Regions from separate parts of the Homo sapiens genome. Here region 2 is linked to region 1. Evidence: fine-mapped expression QTL. A gene starts in region 1. The other region holds a variant in brackets. All regions are shown on one strand. Distances are from middle to middle. Region 1 holds the start of SMAP2 (small ArfGAP2). Region 2 overlaps SMAP2 (small ArfGAP2).

Region 1 (5,381 bases):
GGAAGGGGAATATCACACTCTGGGGACTGTGGTGGGGTAGGGGGAGGGGGGAGGGATAGCATTGGGAGATATACCTAATGCTAGATGACGAGTTAGTGGGTGCAGCGCACCAGCATGGCACATGTATACATATGTAACTAACCTGCACAATGTGCACATGTACCCTAAAACTTAAAGTATAATAAAAAAAAAAAAAAAAGAAAAGAAAATTCTATAACTGGCCAGGCGCGGTGGCTCATGCCAGTAATCCTAGTACTTTGGGAGGCTGAGGTGGGCGGGTCACGAGGTCAGGAGATTGAGACCATCCTGGCTAACAGGGTGAAACCCTGCCTCTATTAAAATACAAAAAATTAGCCAGGAGTGGTGGCACGTGCCTGTAGTCCTAGCTACTTGGGAGGCTGAGGCAGGAGAATTGCTTGAACCTGGGAGGCGGAGGTTGCAGTGAGCCGAGATCGCACCACTGCACTCCAGCCTGGCGACAGAGCGAGACTCGGTCTCAAAAAAAAAAATTTTATAACTAATGTGGAAACAGTTTTATGATAAGATAACATGTGCATGATGGAACAGAGTGAACATTTTTGCAAGACTAGTCAAAGCAAAATTCAAGACTTCAAAAAAAAAAATGTGTACTTGGGAGGAGCAGTTTGCTTTGTTTATATCCTCAGACCCTGGGCTATGCACTCACTTTACTCTGCTATTAGTAATGATAATAAAAAGAGCTAATACTTGATGTATCTGCTAGGATAGGCTAGCTTATACAGTGGTAAACAAACAAAACTCAATGGCAACACAATGCTTATTTCTTGCTTATGCTAAGTTATCCTCTATGGGCTGGCAGAGAGCTCTTGTTTATCAGCTACACAGAAATCCAGGCTAATAGAGCAACCAACATCTTCAGCATCAATAGTTGCCATGCCAGAGGGAAAGAGAAGCACAAGAGGCTCAAAGCAACAAATAAATGCTTCAGAGACAAAGTAATCCATCCTTTCTGCTCAAACTCATTGGTCTTTCCCAATCACTTGAAGGCCAGGAAATAAAATCCTACCATGTGCTCAGAAGGCAAAACGCCAGAAATATTTAGTGAAGAGCGCTAATTGTCTATCATTCACTATCTACCAAGGGCTGTTCTAATTATATTACAGGCATTATCTCAGCTAAGCCTCATAATAATCTTGTGAAATAGGTACTATTAATGTTATCATCATTCCCATTCTATAGATGAAATAACTGAGGCACCAAGAGGCTAAGTAACCTGCTCAAAGTCACACAGATAATAGGTGGTAAAAGCTGAAGATTTAAACTTAAGCATTCTTGCCCCAGAGTCTGTGTGCTTAACCACAAAGCCATGAGATCTCTCACTAGGTGGGAACAATTTGAGAAACACTGCCATAGGCAATGGAGAGCCACTAAAGGATTTTTTAAGCAGGAAGTGTGAGTCCATCAGAATTGGCATTTAAAAGCTCCCTCTAGAGAGCACGGTGAAGGATTAATTTAACCAGATTTAGACTAAGGCAGGAAGGCTATTTGCAGAGTGAGGAGATGAAGATGGGGAGGGCTTGAACTAAGGTACAATCACCACTCACCGCAATTAACTGGGTTTTGTTGTTGTTGTTGTTGTTTGAGACAGGGTAACGGGGTACATTGGGGGTTGGAGGGGTGGTTCTTACTGTGTTGCCCAGGCTGGATTCCAACTCCTGGGCTCAAGTGATGCTCTGGCTCTGGCATCCTGAGTAGCTAGGACTACAGGTATGTGCCACCACACCCAGTAACTAGTTAATCTTGACTGTCTATTTCAACTGAAAAATGGTTATGGTAATACCTACTTGGATGGGTTTTCTGAGGAAAAACACCCCAATGAACTTGTGTGTTTTTAAAAGTCAAGTCCCCTAGGCATGGCTAGAAGGGAAGAGGCTTAGCCAGAAAATTTAATTGTTGTGATTAATAAAGTAATAGAAATGTTTAGTTTTCCTCTGATGAGATGAAAGCTTTGAGGGGATCCTGGTCTTGGGAGAAAGTAAAGAAATGGAGGAGAGGGTTTCACCAGAGTTTAGATAACTCTTAGCATCTGCTTACTATCTTCCCTGATTAATTATTTCCATGGCAGCCAGAGTGACCTTTTAAAACCACAAATCGGATCATGCTGTTTCCCTCTCCCCTAGTACAGTGCCTGATACTTAGAAATTTCTCAGTAACATCGTGCTCAGTGAATGAATGAATGAATGAGTGAATGAAAACACAAGCCAGATGGCAGGTGGATCCCTAAGGAAAAGGACAGCCAATGAGAAATTATCTGTAGCAACGGTGGCTTTGGATGATGATGTTTAATAATCATTTTTAAGGAGTTGCCTGTTGTGTGCTATGCTTTAATCACTGTCCCCCACCCTTCCCAAATAACGTTCAGTAAAAGTCTGCCACAAAAAACTCGCTGTTTTGTGAGAATTTAAGAAATGGAAGAAGAAACAAACTGTCTGGGCACCAGGCCAAACAATATCCAAAAAGGCAGGAGTCACAGAGGAGAGCTAATGAGTATTAGTGGGAGCAGGTATTCCAAGTGAGAGGTGACCAGAGTCCTCTGAAAATGTGGGGAGGGGGTGACGTTCCTATATCCTGGGTTAGGGGCTTGGACTCTTATATTTGGCTGTTGGAAAAAACAAGCTGGAGGACTTTGGGGTATCAACAACCCTCAGGTTACATAAGGATGATCATAGGGTCGTTGTGAGGATTATGTTGGGATAGTTCATGCAAAGCGCTTAACACAGTGCCTAGCGCATAGTAAGAGCTCAGTAAATGTTAGTTGTTGTCTTCCTTCACTTTCTTCCATTCCCTCCACTCCCTTTCTACCAGGCTCCATTCATTCTCTTCCAAGGACACGCAGGGGGCGTGCCCACCCCTTCCCTCCGCCCCCACCCAAGGCCCGCCCCCCGCTTCTCCACGGATTGGTTCCCGAGAGGCGGAGCTGAAGGAAGAGCCCAGTGCGGCGCGGTGGGGGCGGGGCGCATGCGCGAGCTGGGCAGGGTGGAGGTGGGGAGGAAGAGCTGCCGGAAGTAGGCGGTGGAGGTGGTAGCGGAGCTGACGGCAGCTGCCAGGGAAACCGAGGCGCGGGACGCAAGGCCAGCAGACAGGCCGGCCAGAGGGTCATCTGCGTCCGGCACCCAGGAGGCTCGTGGTCCGCCTTTGCCTGGGCTGAGGGTCTCTGGCCCCGCAGCCTCTCTTGGAGGCGGGCCTGTCCCTAAGCCCGCCAAGGGGCGCCGCGCCGAGGGGCTGCGGAGTGGGGGACGGACGCCCCCGACCCGGGAAGGGGCGTCCGGCGGGGCCGGAGGAGAGGGCTCTCCCCGCTCAGGAGGTGCCCCTGGGCGGGGGACCGGGAGTCCTCAACCCCGGACTGAGGCAGGGGTCTCTGGGGGCGAGGAGGGCGCGTCGCCCTCTGCCCCCGCCGGCACCCTGGCCATGACAGGCAAGTCGGTGAAGGACGTGGATCGGTACCAGGCTGTCCTGGCCAACCTGCTGCTGGAGGAGGATAACAAGTTTTGTGCAGATTGCCAGTCTAAAGGTAGCGCATCCCACCTGGCGGGCCAGGGGTCCAGCCGCGCCGGGGTGGTGGGGGTGGGCTGCGTGAAGAGGCGGTTTCTGAAGCTTAGGCCGCCCAACTCGGCTTATAAGTGGTAACGCGTGCTGCGCTTGCAGTGAGCCTACTGGGCTTTCTGCAGCTGGGGGATTGGTATGGGTAGAGCTTGCGAGGGCGAGTCTGTGTGTGTCGGGGAGGGTGGAGGTGATGGTGCGGGTGGAAGTTGCCTGGCGTGTTCAGGTGAGAATGTCTGTATTTGAGGGCTCTGAATGAGTTCTGGGCCGGCTGTCCAGAGAGAGCTCCCAGCATGTCACTTGCAAAGCTGGGGATGAACTGCATTGCGTGCGTGCGTGCGTGCGTGTGTGTGTGTGTGTGTGTGTGTGTGTGAGAGAGAGAGAGAGAGAATGACGAGGAGGAGGAGGAGGGAAGTGAGATGGCGGAAAGGAAAACTGCTTAAATGATTTTTAAAGGTGGTGATTTTTGCTTCCTGCTATTTGGTTAGCAACTCCTGTCATTTTGCAGCCTTGCTAAGATCTGACAAGAGTGCTTAGGTGACTTTATTCTTCTGGATGTGTGCAGTGGGAAACTGCCTTATGCAGTGACACAGTGCGGATTTCTAGGCAGTGTAGCCCTGGCTTGTAGAGTGCGTTGGAGGCCTATGTATGAGTGGTGGCAGAAACTAGCCGATTATGCCTGTAGTGCAGGATCCGTTTAATCAGTGGAGAGAGAAAGATGAATTCGATGAATTCATTGCTTCCATGGCGATTACACTTCTAAAGGTGAAATATGATCATTGTAAATTGGCAGAACCATTTAGTCTTTGTTTTCTGTGCCCTAGAAGATTCATGATTTGATACAATTAAAAGTCAGTACAATAGGAAATCTTGGTTATTAGTGAAATGTTGGCACTTGACATTTATACAAGCTTCTATGAATCTTTTTTTCCTGTATTTTCTAATTCTTTTGGCATATAATTGGAGGATTGGGAAAATTATTTTCCCTTTGGTTGGGTCGAAATGGATAGTTATATTTTGGGGGCGACAATTTACTTTTGTTCATAATGCAGTGGATTTGCCATGGTTGTTTGCCGTACAGCGTAGTGGGCATATACTATAAAACAAAGATTCAGTTATATTCGTATTTATCTATTTTGAGAAAGGAAGGACATATTTAATTGATGCTTTCACTTAATTACCTTTTATTTTTGAAGAATAAGGTTATAAAAGGAGAACAGGGGAGGGATACATAGACACCTAGTAATGTATTTTAGTGACCTCTACCAACAGATAAATGGAATGTGCCATTAGGAAAACAAATTCCTAGACTTCTTTCCTGAATTTTTGCATTAGCAATAATTCATTTTAAAAAGTATTTTAGAATCAATTTATGTTGAGTAGGTTAGCTTCTTGATTCTTGTTACATCTTCTGTTAGGTCTATTGGAAGATTTGGTTTATTTTAGGAGTGTATCTTGGCTTTATTCAAATTCCCTTATGTCCTCATTTGACAGATCTTGAGTCACAGTGAAGCAACCCACTGGAGTGAGCATTGCTGCATTTGGAGAGTCAGATGCCATTTTGGTGACTAGAACCCCCCCCCCCATTTCTCATATTACCCTTATACTTACTCATATTCCAATAAAATACAGCACATGGAAGAGAGAGGCTGATTCACTACTTCTTCCTCCAAATTTCCATTGCTTTTTATTTATTTTATTTTTTATTTTTATTTTTTGAGACAGTTTCGCTTTGTCGCCCAGGCTGGAGTGCAATGGTGCAATCTCGGCTCACTGCAACCTCTGCCTCCCGGGTTCAAGTG
Region 2 (5,381 bases), 23 kb after region 1:
TCTGACAATAATCTAAATGGTCTCCATTTTCTGATTCACCCTTTTTTCCAATTCCAAGTTGCCATTATCCATGTAATTGGCTCTAAAGAGAGCAAGGAAATCTATCTTCTCCAGGAGTTTCAGTCATAGATTTTTAGCTGGCTCTCTTTATCATTTGCAACTGAGTTCATTCATATGCTTGTTTTCAAGAATTTTTTCCTTTAGTTCCAGAACTCTTTGCTTCCATCCTATGGTTTCTTGGGAGGACAGTTCTAAGCTTTCTTAAGATAAGTGTTTCAATCACACCATCTACCATTTCCCTCAGAAGTTGTTCTCCTCTTATGCGGTGTGTTTAGGTGTTTGGGGCGCCAATCACTAGGGATTGGAAGGATTTTGATGAATCTTCAAGTAACCATGTCTTGAAGGTTAGCCATCATCAGTTCACTCCATGAAATGAAAACTTACGGGGATCCACTTTTGCTCTTTTTTGAAGAAGTCTATTGTCCTCAAAGGAAGAGGTGGACCTGTTCAGATTTTTAAGTTTTATCTTATTCAGTGTTTGTAGCATCAAGGGACTGGCCTCTAACGGAAGCAACTGGGGGCTTCATTGGCTTATGCAATCAGTCTCATCTCACTGACTTTACAAGGTTCTTCAATACTGGCAGAAAATCTCTTGGCTAGCTCTTTCTCCCTCCTTAAAATATGTTGGCTCTTTACTATAAAAACAATCATAGCAGCACATACCAGAATCTCCTAGGGAAACCCCCAAAGACTTGGGCCTTGTCTCAGCTCTCAGACACTACCACCAAGAGCACTGCATAGCTTTCCCAGGACCAACTGGAAAGAATTCTTTTTTACGACGATGTAATTGACAATGAAAATTGTATATGTTTACAGTATACAATGTGGTGTTTTGATATATGTGTACATTGATTTTTGTGGCAGTCAGGAGGTCCTCTAGTTGGAACAGAGACTCACCACACCCAAGAGTCCCTCTGTCTGTATCCCATCCCCAAATCAGAAAAAGGCCTGTGCGTCTCTGTGGGTAGTATTCACTCTCTCAGATTCCTCTGTGAGTCAGGAACATGACAAGTGGCATCTATATACACAGTTTTAAGAGGAAGTGATGTCACTCTTGGTGTATAGAAGTGAGAAGAGGAGTAATGAGAATTAAAGACCCAGATCACAGGAGAATTTAAGCCATACTTAGAAGTTTGGAGTTCAGTTGATGGTGGGGGGTCCAGTGACATAGCTTTGAATGGGGTGATGACATTATCAGGACATATGTTGGCAGAATGTCCTTTTCAAAGCCAACAAAGTCCAAACTAGGATCTCATTCTTTCCCTCCTGAAGTCACCTGGGGAATTGAATTGATAATAATGATACAGGATGACTGATTGATAGTTCTTTATTCCCAGAAACATCACCTAAGTATACACTAGTTACCTTCCACTGCTGGGAGAGACAACAAGGAAGAGTCACAGTAAGTCCCTACCTGTTAATAATAAACCAATGGCCAGGCCCAGTGGCTCATGCCTGTAATCCCAGTACTTTGGGAGGCCAAGGTGGGAAGATCACTTGAGCCCAAGAGTTCAAAACCAGCCTGGGCAACATAGCAAGACCTCACCTCTACAAAATAATAATAATAATAATAATAAAACAGGGCAGTAAGATTAATGTGGAGCCAAATTTACCTTTCCAGAGTAGTTTAATGAATTTTTGAGATACAGTTACTATCTTTTAGAAGAGATATGTTTGAGATAATCTGGTTAAGGTATATTGACTTGTCTAAAGTCACACAGGAAATTAGTGCTGTAATTTAGATAATTCGTATCTTTAGCTGTGTAGATAAGAAGGGCCAGTTAAATAACATGAGAAAGATGAAGAATGCCTCCTTCCTTTCTCCTAGTAGACCTCAGTCTGCTTTCCTGTTGATTTCTTTGTGTTACAGGCTTTAATGTTTTTTGAGAAAAGCCATTTTAAGTTAACTGCTGAATTAGTTTTAGACATAGATTGACTAATCATTTCATTAGTGAGTACTTAGCAGTGTTCTACCTCCCTTAACCTCCTTTTTCCGGTTACCTGGTAGGAAGATAATGTTGCTTTGCTTCATCTCCATTGGTAATCACAGCAGTCTGTCTAATTGCTATGTCTGTTCTATCATTGAGCTCCTGGATTAAATTGGTTCAGCGGGCTTGTATTTTGGTTGAGTATATAAGTGGCTGCTTTCTTCTGCTAGAATCTCCAAACCTCCATCTTTATCTTTCATACTTTGATATATTATATAAGTATGGGGGGAGTAAAAAGCAGCACCAGGATATCAAAATGGTAGGAAGAGAGATTAATGGGACTCCGTATAAGGAAGGCCTCTCTAATAGTGGGTGCCGTCTAATAGACAAACCAACTACCTTTTGAAATGGTACGTAACTGACTCAGCATTGGACAAGCCAGGTGATCACCCCTAGAAGGAGGGTGCATTCAGTGAGAGGCTGGACCTAAGAGGATTTCTAAAGTCCTTTCCACCTCTGATTTTCTAATTTTAAATTTCTTGGTGTAGGATTTACCTTTATTCTCTAACCAGTCTCAGACATGTTTTAATTTTCTTTGTCTCAGACATTTTTAAGCTTAACTTATGCTCTTTTTTCAACAGTACAAATGTGGACAGTGTTTCTTTTTGACAAACGGAAACAACATTCTTGCAAGATGGCCCAGATGGAAAGGGACTTGTCTTGCAAGTGTTCTGAAAGCAGAGGTTGATTGCATAAGCCTTTATTTTGGTCTCATGGTTCCTTAAAATGTTTGTACTTACAGAAGTTCAAAGTTACTGTTTATTGTTATTTTGGAATAAGGAACTTGATGAACTCTCTTTTGTGTGGATGAAAACATAGAGGTAAACATACCTCTCAGCAGCCCTACACAATTTTTCCAAGATCCCACTGGTGTTTCTGTGTATTCTTCCTTTTCAGTGAATCAGAGAATGGAGGGATATAATGAGTGGAACTGAGGTAACTGGCACTAGATTTGTTCTTAAAACAAATACTGCTGCTTTTTTTACTTTGACTTCCAAATTTTGGGTCAGAGTTAATGACAAGTTATGTCACGTAGAATTAATCTCTTATAAAATCTGAGTTTGTTGATTTAGGTTTTTCCTTATATGTATGTTGCATTTAACCAGTTTTCAGTGCCTGGTATAGGCTCCATGAACCAAATTTGATTCCGTGTTTTAGGTTCCTCAAGACCTAACATCTTCATAGATTGTTTGTTTCATTTTAC[G/A]TTTTCAGAACCATTGAACGGTAAGCAGGAAGGGACCTAAAAATTACTGCAAATCATCTACTGTAGTAGTAGGACTGTAGTAGTAGAAAGAACTGTAGGGCTCATTGTTCACCCAATTCACCACATGGGGATCATTTCTCTACCATCCCTGAGAACTGATTACCAAACCTCTGTTTGAACACTGCACTAACTGAGATTTTACAATTTCTGGATATGCTGCATTGGTTTTTACACAACCTTAATTGTTAGAAAATTTTTCTCTAGAGTGTGCTAAAATCAACTTCTACTCCTTGGTGCCAGTTCTGCTTTTGAAGCCTTTCCAAAGTAACCTAATCCGTTTTCTGTGTTACAGCTATCCTTTAAGGCATTTGAAAACTTCTCCCTTCATTTTGCAAAACAGGAAAAATATATACATTTATGTTGCTTATTGACGAATTCATTTAACACACATTTATTGTGTACCATCTTCTGTTTGCTAGCATTGTGTCAAGTGTTTGTGATAAATGATGAAGGAACATGGTCATTGCCTTCCAGAGCTCATAGTCTATTTAGGACAAGAGAGACCTGTAAGCAACTCGAACAAGATATTAAGTATTAGAAGAACAAAGCATACCCTGGGCTATTAGCAATAGAGAAAGTTAGGGTTTATTCCATTGGAGGGCATCACAGATGAACTGGATTTTTAAGTTTGTCAAGCAGGGAATGAGGGAGAAAGCCATTCCAGGTAGAAAGAATGGTGTAGTCAAAGAGATTTGAGTGTGCTGCATATTTCACAATTATGACTTCCTCAGCATGTGTAAAGTACAAGGCTCTCAACAGACTTTATATATTATGTTAAGGAGTTTCAACTTACCCTGCAGCCAGTAAGGAGCCCTGGATGCTTACGTTGTTTTGTTTTTACGATATCTGTACTGGTTTTTCCCATTGCAAAATTAATAGAAAGCTCATTGCAAACAATTCAGAGAGGATATATAGAGAAGAAAATAGATGTTTCATTATCCCATTATCCCGATATAGTAATAATTTACATATAGTCTTCTAGATTTTTTTTCTGTGCATACGCGTACATTTATTTATTTATTTATTTTTTGACAAGGTCTCACTCTGTTCCCTAGGATGAAGTGCCATGGTGCAATCATAGCTCATTGCAGCCTTTGAATCCTTGGGCTCAAGCAGTACTCCCGCTCAGCCTCCCAAGTAGCTAGGACTACAGAGGCATATCACCACACCGAGCTCATTTATTCATATTTTAAAAAAAATGGAATTGTTTCATGTGTACTCTTTTAATACTGGATTTTTAAAATTACTATATCATGGAGATACTTTTATATGAAATAGAGGCTCCAAAATTTTTCCCCGTTAAATGGTGATACCATAATTCCTTAATGTAACCTATTAATGTTTCTAATTTTCATAAAGATGTAATAATGAACATTCTTAACGTATTTCTTTGTGTACTTGACCTGTTTTTTCCCTGATGAATTCTTACAAGTGGGGTCAAAGGATTTACTTAGTTCTTTTGTTTTTTTGAGATAGGGTGTCAATATGTTGCCCAGGCTGGCCTCAAACTCCTGGGCTCAAGTGATCCTCCAACCTCAGCCTCCTGAATAGCTGGGACTACAGACATGTGCCACTGCACCTAGAATACTTAGTTTTAATTAATCTTTAAGCAAATGTTGCTTCCCTGCTATGTTCAAGGAACCATGCTATGCCGTGAGTATATGATAGTGAATGTTACAGGTCTGGTGACAGCTCTTGTGGCACACATAGTTAAGCGGGAAAGACATCTTAAACAATCAAATAATTAGATAGTAACAAAATATGGTATGATTTAGAAAAAGTAAAGGGTGGCCAGGCACAGTGGCTCACTCCTGTAATCTCAGTGCTTTGGGAGGCCAAAGTAGGAAAATCACTTGAGGCCAGGAGTTCAAGACCAGCCTGAGCAACATAGTGAGACCCTGTCTCTTTTTTATTTCATTGATTTATTTTTATTTTTATTTTTTTCAGACAGAGCCTTGCTCTGTTGCCCAGGCTGGAGTGCAGTGGTGGGATCTCGGCCCACTGCAACCTCCGCCTCCTGGGCTCACGTGATTCTCCTGCCTTAGCCTCCCAAGTAGCTGGGACTACAG

The links.
Region 2: its variant is fine-mapped to the expression of SMAP2 in fibroblasts (GTEx, PIP 0.94).

What each region holds. Positions count from the first base shown.
Region 1 is chr1:40,370,674-40,376,054 of GRCh38, forward strand. It overlaps SMAP2 (small ArfGAP2), which reads left to right and starts at 3,054. Exons shown (of 10, transcript NM_022733.3): 1 at 3,054-3,550. The coding sequence starts at 3,448. RefSeq lists silencers at 2,797-3,116, 3,187-3,326 and an enhancer at 3,312-3,811.
Region 2 is chr1:40,393,907-40,399,287 of GRCh38, forward strand. The region is part of intron 1 of SMAP2 (small ArfGAP2); the gene reads left to right. Among named protein-coding and RNA genes, the nearest start is that of SMAP2, 23 kb to the left of the region's middle. The variant G/A (reference allele first, on the strand shown) is at 3,253.